2 linked regions of the Homo sapiens genome follow. The protein of the gene in region 1 interacts with the protein of each later gene in a biochemical or structural test. Each region holds a gene or a part of one and is shown in the gene's direction. Other genes may lie near its edges. The genes, in order: DHX15 and RBM5.

What was found.
Region 2: the proteins of DHX15 (region 1) and RBM5 form a complex in vitro, tested with the Homo sapiens proteins (one study listed by IntAct).

Annotation. Positions count from the first base shown.
Region 1 is NC_000004.12:24,526,887-24,532,753, reverse strand, and holds the end of DHX15 (ATP-dependent RNA helicase DHX15), read left to right. Parts: intron 1-2,983; coding exon 2,984-3,153; intron 3,154-4,712; coding exon 4,713-4,830; 3' UTR 4,831-5,279; downstream 5,280-5,867.
Region 2 is NC_000003.12:50,112,853-50,119,742, forward strand, and holds the end of RBM5 (RNA-binding protein 5), read left to right. Parts: intron 1-530; coding exon 531-692; intron 693-1,097; coding exon 1,098-1,247; intron 1,248-1,327; coding exon 1,328-1,399; intron 1,400-2,575; coding exon 2,576-2,755; intron 2,756-3,053; coding exon 3,054-3,128; intron 3,129-3,169; exon of another isoform or gene 3,170-4,221; coding exon 4,222-4,319; exon of another isoform or gene 4,320-4,397; coding exon 4,398-4,527; exon of another isoform or gene 4,528-5,396; intron 5,397-5,478; coding exon 5,479-5,604; 3' UTR 5,605-6,169; downstream 6,170-6,890. UniProt on the Homo sapiens protein: Component of the spliceosome A complex. Binds to ssRNA containing the consensus sequence 5'-AGGUAA-3'. Regulates alternative splicing of a number of mRNAs.

The DNA of each region.
Region 1 (5,867 bases):
AAATTTATCTTAAATGTTGGTACATCCAGTTTCTTTGAGTGAATTAATATACTAAGAAATTTTAAGTATTTAATGAGTAACAAATTAATGTACTAAATGGCTAAGGTAGTCTAGTTATACAGGAATCGTTTTTAGAATTATTTTATTAATAGAGCCTTTGTTATACAAAATGGAAACTTTGGCTACTTTCAGATGTGATTAGGCACCTGTTTCTTCAGGAATGTGAATATTGATCAGTGCATTAAAGTTTCTCTGAATCTAGGGCTTAATTGGAAATACATTGTCATAACAGAGTACTAAAAGGAAGCAATTGAGCGGATCCAAAAGTACATACAGTTGGCTTTAGTCTTTATCTAAAAACTAAGCACCTCCAAATTCAAATATTCAAATACGTGGATTTCATTTACAGTCCTCTACAGAGTGATCATTGGTAATTATGACCAAGACCCTTGCGTACTGCAAAAGCCAAAAACGTCTGTTGAGTAGCAATAAAGATGAAACATAATTTAAAAGGTTTTATTTAGTTTAAGTATGCTGTGTTAACGGCTATAAGAACAGAAGTAAAACTTGTCAAGTAAATACTGTGAACAGTTATTTTAAGGTGTTTATAAAATAAGAGAAACTTTGAGAAAAATGCAAGAAAATTTTGTGGTGATAAAATTGAAAACAAATCACCTGATTTGGGATAAGTCTCTTCTATCTCTTTTCTGTTTGTTCATTCTCTCTTTGGCTGTGTCTTTTAAGCACGATGTGGCTTACCCTTAAGGCCAGATGGGCTCAGTAGCTAGAATATGAGCCTGAGGACACTCAGTTTCAGAATCAAAAATCAAAGGAGATTGGTGAGATGTCTGTATTTGAATCTAAGTAACACAGTGTTTATTGTGGCATCTTATTATATAATAGGCTTATTAGAGTTTGGTGAATGATAGGTATGAGCATTCTTTCTTGAAACTCTTAACTATATTCTTAATATTTGATATGTTGTACTGGCTTCTCTTTGACATGTTCTGTTCTTTTTTAGGGGGAGGGGATGGGGTGAGGGAGGCAATGTCTCACTCCCAGGCTGGAGTGCAGTGGTGCAATCACGGCTCACTGCAGCTTTTACCTCCCTGGGCTCTGGTGATCCTCCCACCTCAGACTCCTGAGTTCCTGGGACTACAGGCACGCACCACTATGCCTAGCTAATTTTTGCCTTTTTGTGTGTGTAGAGAGAGGGCCTCGCCACGTTGCCCAGGCTGATCTTGAACTTCTGGCTTCAAATGATCCTCCTACCTCGACCTCCCAAAGTGCTGAGATTACAGACGTGAGCCACCAGGCCTGGGTTGACATGTTCTTAAATTTGCTTTTTATATTTCAGAAAAAAACTGGCCGGGCGCTGTGGCTCACGCCTGTAATCCCAGCACTTTGGGAGGCCGAGGCGGGTGGATCACGAGGTCAAGAGATCGAGACCATCCTGGCTAACATGGTGAAACCCCGTCTCTACTAAAAATACAAAAAATTAGCCGGGCGCGGTGGCGGGTGCCTGTAGTCCCAGCTACTCGGGAGGCTGAGGCAGGAGAACGGCGTAAACCTGGGAGGCAGAGCTTGCAGTGAGCCGAGATAGCGCCACTGCACTCCAGCCTGGGCGACAGAGCGAGACTCCGTCTCAAAAAAAAAAAAAAAATTGATGAAACTATATTCAAGCATTATACTTCTTAATTATGTAGATTAAAATTTGTTACAAACAGCTAGGCACCACAGAGTGTGCTTGTAGTCCTAGCTACTAGAGAAGTTGAGTGGAGAGCAAGGAGCGTTGAAGCCAGCCCAGGCAACATAGGAAAACCCTATCTCTTTTTAAAAACAAACAAAAAATTTATTAGAAACAGCATGCATTATAGTACCTGACACCTAATAGGTGTTTAGTAAATATTTCGAATGAAATTGAGTTTCTTTTCTATTATTCATGCTCATTCTTTAAGCACAGAATATTAGAATTGGAAAGGGAGAACTGTCCATTTTGATGAGTATCACCAGTCAAGGTGTTACCAAAAAAAGAAATGAGAGGGAAGCACGTGCAAGCTCTTTTTTTTTTCCCATTTTTATTTTCCTGTCTTTGTAGGTTACCTTTTTCTTTTCCTCTTTGCCCTCTTTAGTTTTCTACCTTATTTTTTATTCTATTTCTTTATTTTCTTTTTTGAAATGGAGCCTCTCGGTCTGTCGCCCAGGCTGGAGTGCAGTGACTTGATCTCAGCTCACTGCAACCTCCGCCTCCTGGGTTCAGGCAATTCTCCTGCCTCAGCCTCCTGAGTAGCTGGGATACAGACACCCGCCACCACGCTTGTCTAATTTTTGTACTTTTAGTAGAGATGAGGTTTCACCGTGTTGGCCAGGCTGGTCTCGAACTCCTGACCTCAGGTGATCTGCCTGTCTCAGCCTCCCAAAGTGCTGGGATTACTGCACCTGGCTTTAGTTTTCTACCTTAGACATGAATGTTCTGGTAATTGTCTGCTCATAGTTGGCGCCCAGTGCTGAAGAGCCTGCTCTAGATGGTCTCAGGCAGGAAAGATCAGATAGTAAATGTTGGGCTCTGTGGACCCATGAAGTCCTTGTCAAAACTACCTAACACTGCCTGCTCTTGGAGCATAATAGGTATAGACAAATGGGCATGCCTGTGTTCTAATAAAACTTTCCTTATGGATACTGAAGTTTGAATTTTACATGCTACTCATGCTTCACGGAATGTTTTTTGTATGATATTTTTTCTTTCTAATTAAAGATAAATAAACCATTTTGGATTCACAGACCTTACAAATAGAGGCTATGAGTTGGATTTGGCCCACAGGCAGCAGTTTGCTTATCTCTGCTTTTATCAGACAGTGATAAATAAGTATAGCCATAGAATGAAAAGTAAAAGGGAGGCCTGCCTCTTCCTAATTATGTAGGTAGCTTTACAACTAGCAAGTCAGAAGCATTGTATTAATAATATACTGGGTTTTGGTTTCAGGTGGCACATTTAGAACGAACAGGGCATTACTTAACTGTGAAAGATAACCAGGTGGTTCAGTTGCATCCCTCTACTGTTCTTGACCACAAACCTGAATGGGTGCTTTATAATGAGTTTGTTCTAACAACAAAGAATTACATCCGGACATGTACAGATATCAAGCCAGAATGGTAAGTACACCTTTTGTTCTAACAGTTTTTTGTTAGTACTTTGCTCAAAATGGAACCTGACTGTTGCTAGAGTCATGGCCTTGCATTCACTCATTGAGAATTTATATTTCAGTGTGTAGGTATGAGGGAATTGACTGGATGGTGTGATTAATCTTTCACACCCTTCCTTTGTTAAGTGGACAGTGGGATTGTTGATATTTATGGGCAGGATTTGAAGCCAAATGTGAAGTTACATTTGAATAGCATGAAAAGTTTCTTCAGGGGCTGGGCATGGTGGCTCACACCTGTAATCCCAGGACTCTGGGAGGCCAGGATGGGAGGATCACTTGAAGCCAGGGGTTCAAGACCAGCCTGTGCAATATAGCCAGAATCCATCTCTACTAAAAGATATATAGGTGTGTACAAAAATTAGCTGGGCATGGTGGTGCTGCACGTCTATAGTCCCAGCTACTGGGGAAGCTGGGCAGGAGGATTGCTTGAGCCCAGGAGTTTGAGGTTGCAGTGAGCTATGATCATGCCACTGTACTCCAGCCTGGGTGACAGTGAGACCCTGTCTCTCAGACATACTTTTAAAAAAGGGTTTTTTTTTAATTTTTTTAATTTTTAGAGTTTCTTTGGAGCCATTCTCTTGCTGTTGTGATTCTCAAGTCAGTACTGTTTCTTGCTTGCAGAAATCTGTTTTTTTTTGTTTTGTTTTGTTTTTTAACATTTTTTTTGTCCCATTACAATTAGCCCTCAACTATTTATTATTTATATATTGGTTTTTAGGAACTGTGCAGGCATAAAAATGATAGCTCTTTGTGTTTTAACATACTAGCTTCTACAAAATGTAGAGTAAGAACGGATTGTTTTATTTTAAGCAAAATAACCCTCACCTTCATGGTTTTTTGTTTTATTTATGCCAGAATCTATTCTATAACCTATGACAGGAAATGTCAGCCAAGAGTAGTGGGACTGAAGGCACATATTCTAGGTGCTGTCACCGCTTTATATTGTGCAGCTGCTTTCTTATACGGATTTGGGACTTTTGACACTTAAATTGTGTAGGACATTACCATTTTATCTTAAACGCTTTGTTGAGAAAAAAATTATATAGCTAAACTTTATAAAAGATTTCAGTCAAGTGTATTTTGGGGGTATAGAGTTACAGTTATTAAAACATTGAAAATGAAAAGATCCAATCATTTGAATACCACGATGTTTCCTACACAGAACCTGTTATATATTACTATATCCTTGGAGTGGCAAATTAATAGTGTGCCAGAGTAAAGAAATCAGTGACTTTATCTGTTATCTTTACATTAATGTATCTTGAGGGGTTTGTTATTAAGTTTATGGTAAGTCCAACATCAGAAAATTCACATCTTACTAAATAAAATACTTAACACATTTCTAAAAGTGCTATTTGTAAGGATTAGTTATTTGTATTTTTCTGAGACTTGAATTCATAGATTTGCCTTGGTTCATCAGTATATTAATGAATAATGCCTATCCTATTAACAACTCCAGTACTTCAATTAAATGTTAATTTGGAAATTTTTCTGCCCACTTCTAAACAGGTTGGTGAAAATTGCCCCTCAATATTATGACATGAGCAATTTCCCACAGTGTGAAGCAAAGAGACAGTTGGACCGCATCATTGCCAAACTTCAATCCAAGGAATATTCACAGTACTGAATTCAGTGCTTAGAACTGAAGTTATTGAGAGGACAGCTTTAAAAGATGAATGAACTCAAAAGTTCGAGTTGTGCTCTTCACGTTGGTTCGATAATGGCCTTTATTTGAAAGCTTTTTAATTTTTCTTTACAGTAAATATTCCATTCTGATTTCATAAATTAAACATTTATGCCTCCCTTTTGTGTTGACACTGTAGCTCATACTGGAAAAGTCGATCAATGTTTTGCAGTTTATTGAAAGTAGTTCTATATATAACAATGTTATAAGCATTTCTTTAGAAATGGTTGAAAATGCTTCTAAAATGTGATTATCGACCATGGTATGCATGATCGTTGTAATTGTTGACATTCCTTTTAGAAGTTGTGAAATGTTACAACTTGTGCTTATGTAGACACAATCTTCTGTCTCAGTACAGAGGCACTGACTTCAATAAAGTCTATTTATACTAATTTTGGCCAAAGCCCTTTGGTATCTTTGTTCTAGTCTCTAAGTATAGTTGTTTTTCAAGTGTGGAGCTTTTTTATTATTATAATTATACTGTTACTACATATTTAGTATCTTTCTACCAGGAGTACTCCTTAGGAAAAGTAGCTGTTAAAGCAGTATTTTTAAGAGCATGGCTTAGCGCTTTGTTAGGTTAATCAGGATGTGATCGATCTAAAAGGGGTAAAATGTGTGTAGTGATCATTTGAAACTGGACCCCAAAAGAGAGAATAATGAAAGGAGAGCTCTCTACTTGTCTTTCTTAGAGTTCCTTTCATAAGGCTCATAATTTATTAACTACATTTTTGTCAGATGTTTTTATTATACTTCTAGCTTCTCAAACACGTTTATTAGTATTAGGTAAGAGGAAAGCATATTTTAGATCTCAGTTTAACAAAATTCTTAGTGATGGAAGTTTTATGCAGTATACAAAATAATTTGTATAGTGTGTTAAAATGTACATTTGACCTTCCATTTTCTATGACAGGCAGTAGACAAGTTGAAAACTTGTCTACATTCATTTTGGAATGAAAATTGAGGTGTTTTATGTGGCC
Region 2 (6,890 bases), on another chromosome or scaffold:
TTTATTATCATTTTTTTTGAGATGGAGTCTTACTCTGTTGCCCAGACTGGAGTGCAGTGGCATGATCTTGGCTCACTGCCACCTCCTCCATCTCCCAGGTTCAAGCAGTTCTCTTGCCTCAGCCTCCTGAGTAGCTGGGATTACAGGTGTGCCATCATGCCCAGCTAATTTTTGTATTTTTAGTAGAGATGAGTTATCACCATGTTGGCCAGGCTGGTCTTGAACTCCTGACCTTGGGTGATCTGCCCACCACCACCTCCCAAAGTGCTAGGATTACGGGCATGAGCCACTGCTCCCGGCTGGGAACTAAACTTTTTAAAGAAATCATATTCTATTTTTACTCTAGCAGTGTCACACCTCTTTGCTAGGTGGTTCATCACCTTTACTTATACCAAGGTGTGCCCAGGGTCTTTTCTGGGCAGGAAATATCACTAGTCCACAACATACTTTATCTTTTTTTTGACAAAATATGTAATCGACTGACATAGCAGAAAGTCTGCATTAATTGTTTTTTGTTTGTTGTTTTCTAGTACTACTATAATTCCTTGACCCAGCAGTACCTTTACTGGGATGGGGAAAAAGAGACCTACGTGCCAGCTGCAGAGTCTAGCTCCCACCAGCAGTCGGGCCTGCCTCCTGCAAAAGAGGGGAAAGAGAAGAAGGAGAAACCCAAGAGCAAAACAGCCCAGCAGGTTAGAACATGACCCATATTTCTTTCATTGAGGTATTGGGCTGAACTCTTAGTTTTGGGGTTGTAGCATTTATGTCAGTATTATTTGGATTCTTAAAAATTGGGCTTCACATTTTATTCATACTAAGTTCTTAGAGCATTTTGCAATTTGTTATTGTTACCATATCTTGACTGTCAGCCTGTGTACTTAGGGAAAAAAGCCCTGGAAATCTCAAAGCTTTTCAAGCAGTATTTATGAATGACTTTGGTTATATGTGATAACATCTAATGGAAATATTTGTAGGTGGAAGTAAGAGTAAAAGGGGTTTGTTACAGGGCATATAGTTGAGATAAGATCCTTAATGGCTCATTCTCATGGCACAGGGGATTAAATATTTTTTTGTTGGTGTTTGTTGTTTGACATTAGATTGCCAAAGACATGGAACGCTGGGCTAAGAGTTTGAATAAGCAGAAAGAAAACTTTAAAAATAGCTTTCAGCCTGTCAATTCCTTGAGGGAAGAAGAAAGGAGAGAATCTGCTGCAGCAGACGCTGGCTTTGCTCTCTTTGAGAAGAAGGTAATAGCAGGAATGGCCAGTATGTCATGATGGGAACTTACCTAAAACTTGAGTCTCATGGCTTGTCCTCTGTTTCCCAGGGAGCCTTAGCTGAAAGGCAGCAGCTCATCCCAGAATTGGTGCGAAATGGAGATGAGGAGAATCCCCTCAAAGTAAGGGAGTACCACCAGTGTTTTAAAGACCCTATCTGTGGTTTGTGTCTCACTTTAAGGCTCAACTGCATCTTGGCTAATGTGATTCCTACTTAAAACTGAATGTGATCACTGTTGATGGGTATTGGAGCAGTTTCTGCACATAGATTCCATGTCGGGGCTTTGTTTTCTGTGAGAGCAGATGAGATGGAGTGATGAAAGAAGCTTCAATTCCTAAGCTCAGTTAATTAAGTTTCATTGCATCTGTGAGTGGAGAGTTTTAATGGTCTGGAAAGAGAAAATTAAGACAAGAAAAAGCTTGTTTTACTAGATAGATACTGGTCTGGGTGGGCCATTATTCTGATATGTTGTATTTGGGATTTTTATTTGTGGTCAGTGGTTTGAAAATAGTCACTCAGTCTAGGCAACATTGCAAGACTTCGTCTCTACTGAAAATTAGAAACAAATTAGTTGGGTGTGGTGGCTTGCATCTGTACTCCTAGCTACTTGGGATGCTAAGGTAAGAGAATTGCTTGAGCCCAGGAGATCAAGGCTGCAGTGAGCCACTGCACTTTTTGGGGATCATACCATTGCACTCCAGCCTGGGCAGTGAGCAAGACCCTGTCTCATTTAAAAAAAAAAAAAACAAAAACAGTCTTGGCACAGTGGCTCACACCTGTAATCCCAGCACTTTGGGAGGCCAAGGCAGGCGGATCATTTGAGGTCAGGAGTTCGAGATCAGCCTGACCAATGTGGTGAAACCCCATCTCTACTAAAAATGCAAAAGATTAGCCAGGGGTGGTGACAAGCGCCTGTAATCCCAGCTACTTGGGAGGCTGAGACACTTGAATCACTTGAACCTGGGAGGTGGAGGTTGCAGTGAGCTGAGATTACGCCACTGCACTCCAGCCTGGGCAACAGAGCGAGACTCCTTCTCCAAAGAAATAGAAAAAGGTAGTCACCCAGGAATCCATTTCTTAGGCTCCAAGAAGGTTGGTACCAGGAGGCTGTCAGGCCTAGCACTCAAGGACCTGACTGCTCCACGCAGTTGACAAAATGTGATTCATTACTAAAGTGTGACATGCAGTAATGGGGATTTGTTAACATTTCGGATGAGGCATTACTTTATCCAGGTACATAGCCACCGCCATCTTCCTATTGTACATTTCCAGTGACCTGTCCTCCTTTTGTCTCCAGAGGGGTCTGGTTGCTGCTTACAGTGGTGACAGTGACAATGAGGAGGAGCTGGTGGAGAGACTTGAGAGTGAGGAAGAGAAGCTAGCTGACTGGAAGAAGATGGCCTGTCTGCTCTGCCGGCGCCAGTTCCCGAACAAAGATGCCCTAGTCAGGCACCAGCAACTCTCAGACCTTCACAAGGTGGCCATGCTTCTGAGCTGATCTGAGGGGGCGAGGGGAGGCAGTGAGACAATTTGAGTGCCCTAACAGTCCTGACGGTTCCAAAAATACCTGCCATCTAATGATGGCCTTACAGAAAGCTGTTCCCGATGACAGTGGACGGAGTCTGGCAGCTCCACACACATCAAACTATAGTTTTTATGTGATTGTGTATTGTTTGGGCTTTGGCTCTTAAAGTACAGTAGATGTTACTAATGTTAGGACATTTCAAATTAAGATGGTCTGAGTCCTTACTGTGTCTTTCAAATCTTTTGTGTAGCAAAACATGGACATCTATCGACGATCCAGGCTGAGCGAGCAGGAGCTGGAAGCCTTGGAGCTAAGGGAGAGAGAGGTGAATGGGAAACTGTGCCACAAGGAAGAGGATATTGGGATAATTGCCTTTAGCTTTTATTTGTAGCATTTAGTTCCAGATCCCAGGGGCAGGGTAGGAGGATTTGTCATACCCTTGTCATCTGACCATTGTAGTTCATGTAGCCTAGACCCAGCCTCTGTGTGCCTTGTGAGCCTCACATTGTCCCTTCATCATAAGGGTGCACAAGGCAGAAGCACACTGCCGAGACTCTCTCACAGCAATGCCAGAGCTTGCTGCTTAAATACGCTGGATTTTGTTATGGAGAGAGTGGTCTAGTTTGGCCTGGCCAGGGAAGCCTTCATGGGCAAAGAAGTGCGCTTCAAATTAATCCCAAGGGACAGCAGGACGTGAGGTTATTGCAGGTGATATGAAAGGAAGGGTGGGCAGGGCATGGCAAGCAGATCTGGGAACAAAGGCAAGAGAGAAGCCTGTGACACAATAATGGGCAAGCAGTTAGTGCTGGTGGTTGGGGCAGGTTGGCGGCCAGGTGGGCAGGGATTTAAATGCAAATAGAGGCCTGTGGTTTAGAAATGAGCAAGTGGGTTTGAAATCTCCCACCTGAGATATTTCTGAAGTGTTTGTAGTTAAGGCTTTTGCTTTTCTTCTCCCCACACCCTTCCTGCCCTACTATCTATGGTTCCACCTCCCCAGCGACTGCTGAACAGGTCTCTGGAAGCCTCCTTGATGTTGGAGGTATGCCTTTCCAAATGTTGGAGGTATGCCTGTCCAAATGCTGAGGAGAACGGGCAACTCTGCCTTCCTCTTCGCAAGCTGTACCCACTGCCCAGTGGGCTGGTTGAGTAGCTTGACAGAGGGTGGCTAATTAAATAAAACTGCTTGTTGGAGACATAGTTCTGCCCCTGGTTCCACACAATTCATATTTACAAATTTAACATTTCAGATATGACTAGGTATGATGATGGGAACAAGGGAATTTGGTATTTCAGAGCAGTCTAAAAAAAGCATTCTTCAGATTTAAAAATACTTGAGGGGATAGTTTTGAATAGGTGCATTAGACGGTTACAGGTTGAAGTCTGTGAACATTTCCAGCAGTGTTTTTTCTCCCATGTAGATGAAATACCGAGACCGAGCTGCAGAAAGACGGGAGAAGTACGGCATTCCAGAACCTCCAGAGCCCAAGCGCAAGAAGCAGTTTGATGCCGGCACTGTGTATGTGATGTGCACATTTTCCAGTTCGTAAGCTGGGGCCCTGGCTGTTTTAAGTAACTGTGTGTTTGCCACTGGCAGGAATTACGAGCAACCCACCAAAGATGGCATTGACCACAGTAACATTGGCAACAAGATGCTGCAGGCCATGGGCTGGCGGGAAGGCTCTGGCTTGGGACGAAAGTGTCAAGGCATTACGGCTCCCATTGAGGTAAGCAGTGGGGTCAGGTCTTGATGTTTGCCAGGCTTACAGGCCGGTTCCAGAGATGAGATCAGAGCACTCATAGAGCCTGGGAGCCAGGAGCAGCTTTACCTTAGCATGAAGGGGCAGATTACAGGCATGAGCTCACACCTGTAATCCCAGCACTTTGGGAGGCCGAGGAGGGTGGATTGCCTGAGCCCAGAAGTTTGAGACCAGCCTGGGCAACACGGTGAAACCCCGTCTCTACTAAAATACAAAATATTAACTGGACGTGGCAGCGTGTGCCTGTAATCCCAGCTAGTCAGGAAGCTGAGGCAGGAGAATTGCTAGAACCTGGCAGGAGGAGGTTGCAGTGAGCCGAGATCACGCCACTGCACTCCAGCCTGGGCAACAGCGACTCTGTCTCAAAAAAAAAAAAAATTTAGTAGGGTTTTCACCCATGATAAGAAATCTTTAAATTGATCAGAGCCCACATTGAGGCATCATATCCCAGGATCGGAGGCCCCTACCCACTGGCCTTCTAGGCAGGAGCTCCACCCGTAATTGCCCCTGCTCTGTCCTGGGAGCACAGCTTAGGTCAGACTCTTGTAGACCATGTTCATCCTGTTTATGTGAGTTCTGCTGACATTGAGCTATCCTGTATAATGTGTGCCTGTAATTACCATACCTTTCCCAGACCTTCAGAGGAATACTTTGGGGCCCTTTCCTAGGCGTGGATGCTTGCTGAGCAGGCATTGAGGGGTGGGTGATTTGCTTCATCTGCCTGTGTTCCGTAGCCCATTTTATTCCTCCAGTCCTTATACTTGCTCCTGGTCTCTTCTGGAGAAATCCTTGTCTTCATATACAGTTTTCTCTCTTCTGTCTCCTGGTGGGTGGTCCTGCTGGGTAAGGAGTGGGCATGGTGAGAGGTGGAGCAGCCCATACCCTACCTCCCAGCTGACAGTCTCTGTGCTTTCCCAGGCTCAAGTTCGGCTAAAGGGAGCTGGCCTAGGAGCCAAAGGCAGCGCATATGGTTTGTCGGGCGCCGATTCCTACAAAGATGCTGTCCGGAAAGCCATGTTTGCCCGGTTCACTGAGATGGAGTGAGAGAGAGAGAGAGAGAGAGATGACAAGGAGCACAAGAAGTGGTCCATCTCCCGAATTCGCTGTTACCGCCTGTCTCTTTAAGGGCATGCCTTGTGCTGTTAATAGATCTTAGGGTGAACCACTTCATTCTGCAGGGTTCTCCCTCCCACCTTAAAGAAGTTCCCCTTATGTGGGTTGCCTGGTGAATGGCCTTCCTTCCCGCCAGAGGGCTTGTGAACAGACCGGAGAGGACAGTGGATTGTTTATACTCCAGTGTACATAGTGTAATGTAGCGTGTTTACATGTGTAGCCTATGTTGTGGTCCATCAGCCCCTCACATTCCTAGGGGTTTGAGATGCTGTAGGTGGTATGTGACACCAAAGCCACCTCTGTCATTTGTTGTGATGTCTTTTCTTGGCAAAAGCCTTGTGTATATTTGTATATTACACATTTGTACAGAATTTTGGAAGATTTTCAGTCTAGTTGCCAAATCTGGCTCCTTTACAAAAGAAATACCTTGAGAAATGGGTGTCCTGTGTCTCTTTATTCTTGGGTGGGTAGGTGGGTCAAGCATGTCTGAGCCAGTCAAGCCTGGTGATGAAATCAGTTTATTTCTTGCCCCCATCACCACGTTCTGATTGATTGATTGATTGATTTTGAGGCAGGGTTGGCCAGGCGTGGTGGCTCACACCTGTAATCCCAACACTTTGGGAGGCCGAGGCAGGTGGATTGCCTGAGGTCAGGAGTTTGAGACCAGTCTGGCCAACATGGTGAAACCCTGTCTCTACCAAAAATACAAAAAAATTAGCCAGACGTGGTGGTGTGCACCTGTAATCCCAGCTACTCGGGAGCCTGCAGCCTCGACCTCCCGGGCTCACGCGATTCTCCCACTTTAGTGTTCCAAGTAGCTGGGACTACAAGCACATACCACCATGCAGGCTAATTTTTTAATTTTTTACAGAGATGGGGCCTCACTCTGTTGCCCAGGCTGGTCTTGACATGTTCGGATTTTTAAATTCAAGAGTTTAACATGTTTTAGCCGGGCGTGGTGGCTCACGCCTGTAATCCCAGCACTTTGGGAGGCCGAGGCAGGCGGATCACCTGGCGTTGGGAGTTCAAGACCACCCTGACCAACATGGAGAAACCCGTCTCTACTAAAAATACAAAATTAGCTGGGTGTGGTTGGCCTGTAATCCCAGCTGCTCGGGAGGCTGAGGCAGGAGAATTGCTTGAACCCAGGAGGCGGAGTTTGCAGTGAGCCGGAGGTCGCGCCATTGCACTCTAGCCTGGGCAACCAGAGCAAAACT